Homo sapiens: one gene and its partner. The protein of the gene in region 1 interacts with the protein of each later gene in a pairwise test. Each region holds a gene or a part of one and is shown on either strand. Other genes may lie near its edges. The genes, in order: ANKRD26 and ANKRD28.

Region 1 (3,822 bases):
ATTCTTTCAATCCATTTATTCATCAATCATAACCTGAATACCTGTTATGTAGCAGACATAGTCTACTATCTCTTTTTTCTTTTTTTCTTAGACAGAGTCTCCCTCTGTTGCCCAGGCTGGAGTGCAGTGGCCAGATCTCAGCTTTACTGCAACCTCTGCTTCCTGGGTTCAAGCGATTCTCCTGCCTCAGTCTCCTGAGTAGCTGGGACAGCTAATTTTTTTTTTTTTTTGTATTTCTAGTAGAGACAGGGTTTCACTGTGTTAGCCAGGGTGGTCTCGATCTCCTGACCTTGTGATCTGCCCACCTCGGCCTCCCAAAGTGCTGAGATTACAGGCTTGAGCCACCGCGCCTGGCCTTTTTTGTTTTTGAGGTGAAGTCTCGCTTCTTCGCCCAGGCTGGAGTGCAATGGTGTGATCTCGGCTCAATGCAACATCCATCTCCTGGGTTCAAGCAATTCTCCTGCCTCAGCCTCCCTAGTAGCTGAGATTCCAGGCACGTGCCACCATGCCTGGCTAATTTTTGTATTTTTAGTATAGATGGGGTTCTACCCTGTTGGCCAGGCTGGTCTCAAACTCCTAACCTCAAGTGATCTGCCTGCCTTGGCCTCCCAAAGTGTTGGGATTACAGGCGTGAACCACCGCTAGTTATAAGCATATTAATGTAAGTGCGTAGTATTTTAATAAAATGTGGTAGAATATAGACTTGATCTTTGAATTGGAAACATAACAGTAGTGGACATGAAGATTTGCAGAGCTGATTTTTTTTTCTTTTTTTTTTTTTTTTGAGATGGAGTCTCGCTCTGTCTCCTGGGCTGGAGTGAGTTGGCATGATCTTGGCTCACTGTAACCTTCTCCTCCCAGGTTCAAGCAATTCTCGTGCCTCAGCCTCCCAAACAGCTGGGATTCCAGGCACCCACCACCATGCCTGGCTATTTTTTTTGTATTTTTAGTAGAGACGGGGTTTCACCACGTTGGCCAAGTTGGTCTCAAACTCCTGACCTCAGGTGATCTGCCTGCCTCAGCCTCCCAAAGTGCTGGGATTACAGGCATGAGCCACTGCACCAGGCCAGAGTTGATATCTTTGAAGTGAGGATTTTACTTCTATGCAAATTCTTTTCTGTCAGAGGTGAATCCCTATTTTAGTCATGAATATGATATTTATTCCCCTTTCACAACAGGAACTTCATATATATGTATATAAGTGCTGTGTGGTGTTCTAAACTATTTCAGTCTTGCATTAGCATTGTAATACATAATGTAGCTAATCTGCTATGAATTTGGGAATGCATTTTATGACAAATTTACAGAGCTGTCAGGGAAGATGGAAAGTTGCTGATTTCTCATATAAAACTGTCTTCATAGAGCTTGATGTGAATCTCCTGCACTTCTGGAAGCAGGTATTTAACTCATCCCCAGGAAATCAAGCCTGAGAGAAGTTCTGGTGAGCTGCTTGGCTCCTGTGTTGAGACTGGTCTGGTCTCTTAGCATTTGTTTTGGCAAAGAATGTTTGGATGTTTATAGAGGACAGATGAGAGCTCTGGTCAAGTATGAGAGCTGTTGGTGGGAGGGAGAATCCATTTGGGATCCCATATGAAAAGTCCTGTTAAGGGTGTGAGCAGGCCTTAGAAGAGGGTAATCCAAAGTGGATCTGTGGATTCCTTAGGAGCTAAGAGGAAAGAAAGGCCAGAGTGGAGTGCATTCATTCAGGTCAAGGCAATTGCAGGTGAAAACATAGTCTACTATCTCTCAGGACCTTTCCATCTTCAAAACCTTTATGTTTGCATACCTGCCCAGCCTGAGCAAGTTGAGAGATTTAAAATTAGACTATTAGGGCAATCTCAATTGAAGCTTTTCCTCCCTCCTCTTATTTATTTATTTTTTTGAGAGGAGATTATGCTCTGACACCCAGGCTGGAGTAAAGTGGCATGATCTCGGCTTACTCCAACTCTGCCACCAGGGTTCAAGTGATTCTCCTGCCTCAGCCCCCTCGAGTAGCTGGGATTACAGGCATGTACCACCATGTCCGGCTACTTTTTGTATTTTTAGCAGAGATGGGGTTTTACCATGTTGGTCAGGCTGATCTTGAATTCCTGACCTCAAGTGATCTGCCTGCCTTGGCTTCCCAAAGTGTTGGGATTACAGGCGTGAGCCACTGCACCCAACCCCTCTTTATAAACAAAAGTGTTTCTGAAGGTAGAAAATTATAAGAAATAACCTTTAATTACCCTTTTGAAAATTTATGTCTTAAACACGAATATTAGTCATTGGAAATATCTGCATATATTCTATAAATCTAAATATTGAATAAAATGAGCCAACCTATTCATTTGAATCCTGAGTTTCTTTTGTGTTGAAGTTTCTTGAAAACACAATAAGAATTACTTTGTTTTAAAAATCTGTTTTTCAATTTTAAAAATGCTTCCAATTATAGTTGTAATAAATCATGAATTACAAGTGGCATTCCAATGTCAGAGATATTGAAATGTGAGAAAATGAGCATCTTAGAATCACTGAAATACTGTGTTATCTCTAATTTTTTTTTTTTTTTTGTAGACAGGGTCTCTCTCTGTTGCCCAGGCTAGAGTACAGTGGCACAATCACAGCTCACTACAGCCTCAACCTCCTGGGCTCAAGCGATTCTTTGGCCTTAGCCTCCTGAGTAGCTGGGACCACAGGTGTTCACCACCATGCCTGGCTACTTTTTAAATTTTTATAGAGATGGAGTCTCACTATGTTGCCCAGGCTGGTCTCAAACTCTTGGACTCAAGCAGTCATCCTACCTCAGCTTCCCAAAGTTCTGGGATTCAGGCATGAGCCGCCATGCCTGGCCTTATCGCTGATCTTTAAAACATACTGTCAACTAGGTATAATTGTATCATTTCATTTAATTAAAACATCTTTATTAAACAGTAGTAATGGTAATTATATCTAACAATTATTGAGCTGTTATTTGTGCTAGGAACTGTTCTAAACATTTTGCATAGATTCTCATGTAAGCATCCCAGTGGTGTCCTATGAGATAGCTACTATTTTGATCCCCATTTTATTGATGAGGAAACTGAGGCACTTACTAAGCCATAATGAGTAAGTGACAGCTTAAAGTAGGATTCAACCCCAAGTTGAACTGAATCTAAAGGTCAAGCCTTTTCTATTCAGATAGGTTGCTCTTTCATTAATGTGGTGAGTAGTAAGAGCTAATAAATATTGTACTGTTTTCAGAAGAAAATTAAATACTTGTTTTGAAGGCGGAGGATTAACATGTGTATTAGTCTGTTCTCATGCTGCTAATAAAGACATACCCTTTATTATATGGGTAATTTATAAAGGAAAGAGGTTTAATTAACTCACAGTTCAGCCTGGTTGGGGAGGCCTCAGGAAACTTAACAATAAGGGCAGAAGGAGAAGCAAACATGTCCTTGACATGGTGTCAGCAAGGAGAAGTGCCAAGCAAAAGAGGGAAAAGCCCCTTAAGAAACCATCAGATATTGTGAGAACTCACTATCACAAGAGCAGCAGCACGGGGGAACCATCCTCGTGATTCAGTTACCTCCCACTGAGTCCCCCTCACCACACGTAGGGATCATGGGAACTACAATTTGGGATTTGGTTGGGGACACAGCCAAGATGAGATTTGGGTGGGGACACAGCCAAACCATATCAACATGCTATTTAATGTTTATAATTTTATGAACCATTGTATGTTTTGAGACAGTGCACTACAGTTTATAAAAAGTCCTGTCACTCTCATAGGACGGCTCTACATTTGGCCTGTGCCAATGGTCATCCAGAAGTAGTAACTCTCCTGGTGGACAGAAAATGCCA
Region 2 (3,822 bases), on another chromosome or scaffold:
CATAAAGTTTCCAGTTTCACAATACAAAAAGGATAAAATGAAATTGGGTATCATTTTGTTGCAATTTATAGAACTTTACCCATACCTGTAAGACCCTCAATGTATATGAAATCATTTTCACTGGGAAAGTGACAGTTACAGTAAAAGCAGAACCACACAAATCTTTATTTAAAAGCCGAAATATCAGCCTTCTCTCTCTCTTTTGCTATTTGAAAGGTAGTCTTCAATTTGGCAGGCAACTGCTTCTCTCTCCAAATAGTAACAGGTTACAAACATGCTACTTTAAATATGAATAGGACCTAAGGCTTTAGTATTTTAAATCTTGCCCAATACAGAAATGCCTTTCAAGAGACTTTAGTGATGCTTAATTTATGAACAACAAGGAATTATTTTCCTTTTGATTATTCACTTTTTCAAAACTCATAGATCAGAATAAACAAAAAATCCCCCAACCCATGGTGGGGACACAAAAGTAACATAAGTGACTAAGGTGTGCCATTCATAGAGAGGTTGAAGACTCCATGCCCCAGGACCACTTAGCTGCAATAGGGTGAAATAGTCTACTTTTTGATTTCATGAATTTTTTTCTAGGAAATTCTTTACATTTTCAAACAAAAATAGTACTATTTTAAACCCAAACCATTCAAAACAGGGCAACAGCCTGACCCCAATCCATCTCAATGTCTATGTCACAAGTATTTTCACCCGTATTGCACCCAGTCAGCTGGTTTTTAATTCTAATAGTATAAAAATTGGAAATTTGAAATAGTTCTGTAAAAGAAAAAAATGTAAAAATACATCTGCTTTCTCTCATGGTTTAATACAGCATTGGAAGGCTTTCAGATGTTTTCTTAAAAAAAAAACAAAACCCAAAAAAACTCAACATTTAAAACCAAATCTCAGCTTCATTTCCAGAAATATTGCAGTTTGGTTTAGGTAATGTTTCATTTAATCTACTCCAGTTTCCACAAAATGGCATTTTATTAAAAAAACCTTTCAGTTATTTGGTCCTTTTGCAATTTGCTGTGCACATAATGCCTACTGTACCAAACTTTTATTGCCTTTAAATTTAGTTGTAATTTTATTGATAAAATTTAAATCTAGTGTCTTTATTTCTTCTGTTACAATAGTGTTGCTTGTGTAAGCAGGTTAGAGTGCACAGTGTCCCCAATTGTTCCTGGCACTGCAAAACCAAATTAAACAATTCCACAAAGAATTCTGACATCAATGTGTTTTCCTCAGTCAGGTCTATTTCAAGATTCTAGAAGTTCCTTTTGTAAAACTTGCCTTTAAAACTCTTCCTCCTAATGCCATCAGATCTCTTAACATTGGCTCACTGTGGGATCTTTCCTCTTAGGTTGAATTTCTACGTGAATATCAAAGTGCCTTTTTCCTGAAAAAGCACAGTTTGAAGCTTTACTGTGAGAACTCCCTCCTCCTCAGCCTCTCAGTAGGTCTCAGAATCGGAGTCGTTGAGCTCATCCACGTCAGTGTATAAGTACTCCTGTTCCCCTCCAATGTTATTGAAACTGCAATAGGAGCTAGGTTCATTCCTCATGATGGGCAAAGCTTCAAAGCTGACTGTTTTTGAGGTGTTGGTATAACGGTTAATGGCATTGAATGTTAAGGATGATAAAGGACTACTTGATGAGACAGGCATCATGGTGGCCAAAATGAGAGCCAGGCAATCAGCCACATCCTTATTGGGAGCACAGGCCAAAGCTGGGGTATAGCCTAGAATTAAAGATAAAATTTAAAAATTAAGCATCCTGAGATGTATTTCACCAAAGACAAGGAAATAAGCCTAAAGTACTTCAACTTTAGACATATTTTACATTACTTAGCTTATAATAAATTGCTGTAACCAGCATGATTCGCAAGTTTCTAATAAGTAGAAAAAGAATAGCCATAGAAACCTAGGGTGGAAGGGGATGTTAGACTAGACAACAGAAGAGGAAGCAGGCCCAGAGAAGAATGATTCCCCAAGGTCTCACAACTTATCCGTATCCATCTGAATTCACAGAAAAAACTGGGCTAGAATAAGAAAAACACCACATATCGTGAATATTCTTTCAGGATGGTAGGCAGAGATTTACTGTTAATTTGCAGTTATATCAGTGTCAAGGTAAGAAAAAATAAAAAAATTTAATTTGTAGTTATGTAAGGAAACTTTTTGATGCTAAGAAATCTTAAATGTGTACAGCTTCATGAATCAGCCACAGGGCAGGTGCTCAAAAGATATGTGTTGAATGAATGACACTTAGTTGTCAATTTAACTTTTCTCTTGGGGTCACAGTCTCTTGAAGAAAAACAGTAGACAAACTAAGCAGATGAACTTTAAAAACTACTAAATCAAAACAAATATTTCCTTTGTAAATATTCCCTTTTTTTAAGCGGAAGACAACTGACCTTAGTCGTAAGTTACCACAAAGTGTCAACACAGCAAACCAAGGAGGAAACATTTGGTACCTCAGTTGGTACAAGACTCAGTCTTGAGGACGGAGCGGGAGAGAAGTGATAATAGTGTGATGCCAAGCTTCAATTATACCATATGGAACTTTAATAGTTTTATCACATAACATACATTTGTATAACCACCATACAGATTAAGAAAGAGAACATTACCAGCATACCAGAAGCCTCCATATATCCTCTACCCAGTCGTTACACCTTTCTTCTTCCACAATGGTAACTACTATCCTGACTTATGGGGTAGTAATTTCCTTGCTTTCAACTTGGAGTCATAAACACTATAGTTTTTTTTTTGTTTTTTTTTTTTTGAGACAGAGTCTGCTCGGTCACCCAAGCTGAAGTTCAGTGGTGCAAACTTGGCTCACTGCAACCTTTGCCTCCTGGGTTCAAGTGATTCACCTGCCTCAGCCTCCTGAGTAGCTGGGATTACACGTGTGTGCCACCATGACCAGCTAATTTTTTATATTTTTAGTAGAGATGGGATTTCGCTATGTTGGCCAGGCTGGTCTCAAACTCCTGGCCTCAAGTGATCTGCCTGCCTCGGCCTCCCAAATGCTGGGATTACAGATGTGAACCACCTTACCCAGCCTACAGTTTAGAGTTTTTAAAAAACTTAATATAAATGGAATCATGTAGTATGTATTATTTCATATCTGGCATTTTTGTGTAGCATTATATGAAATTTATCAATGTTGTATGTAACTGTAGTTGGTTCATTTTCATTGTTATACAGTATTTCATTGTGTGATTATACTATGGTTTAGTTATACATTTCAACTACTGGGCATCTGGTTGCTTCCAGTTCTCCCACATATTTTCATCTATGCTATATTGGCCTTGATAAAAAAAGGATTTTTTTTTTTTTTTTTGAGACAGGGTCTTGTTCTGTCACCCAGGCTGGAGTGCAGTATAATGATCATGCTCACTGCACCCTCAACCTCTGGGCTCAAGTGATCCTCCCACCTCAGCCCCCTGACTAGCTCTGACTATAGGCACATGCCATGCCTGGCTAATTTTTAAACTTTTTTGTAGATACAGGGTCTCGCTTTGTTCCCCAGGCTGGTCTCAAACTGCTGGCTTTAAGTGATCTTCCCGCCTCTGCCTCCCAAAGTGCTGGGATTATAGGAGTAAGCCACTGTGCCCAGCCACAAAAAGTAATTTTTCCCCCTTTGTAAAGTTCCCATTTTGTCAAGGGTCAAAGAGAACAACTGATGTCCTTCCAAGTTTGGCAGCAGTGGCTGAAGGCTGTCCGTATTTTTAATTAAATTTTATTTGTTCAAAGTAGCTGGGGGAGTGCTTCACTGCCCACACTTCTTTCAAGGGTTCTTCTAAAGGTGCCTGCTGCTGTTC

What was found.
Region 2: the proteins of ANKRD26 (region 1) and ANKRD28 interact in a two-hybrid assay, tested with the Homo sapiens proteins (one large-scale study listed by BioGRID and IntAct).

Annotation. Positions count from the first base shown.
Region 1 is NC_000010.11:27,093,728-27,097,549, reverse strand, and holds part of ANKRD26 (ankyrin repeat domain-containing protein 26), read left to right. Parts: intron 1-3,750; coding exon 3,751-3,822. UniProt on the Homo sapiens protein: Acts as a regulator of adipogenesis. Involved in the regulation of the feeding behavior.
Region 2 is NC_000003.12:15,668,823-15,672,644, forward strand, and holds part of ANKRD28 (serine/threonine-protein phosphatase 6 regulatory ankyrin repeat subunit A), read right to left. Parts: exon of another isoform or gene 2,812-3,822; coding exon of another isoform or gene 2,788-2,811; exon of another isoform or gene 2,538-2,787; intron 1,735-2,537; coding exon 1,448-1,734; 3' UTR 1-1,447. UniProt on the Homo sapiens protein: Regulatory subunit of protein phosphatase 6 (PP6) that may be involved in the recognition of phosphoprotein substrates. Involved in the PP6-mediated dephosphorylation of NFKBIE opposing its degradation in response to TNF-alpha.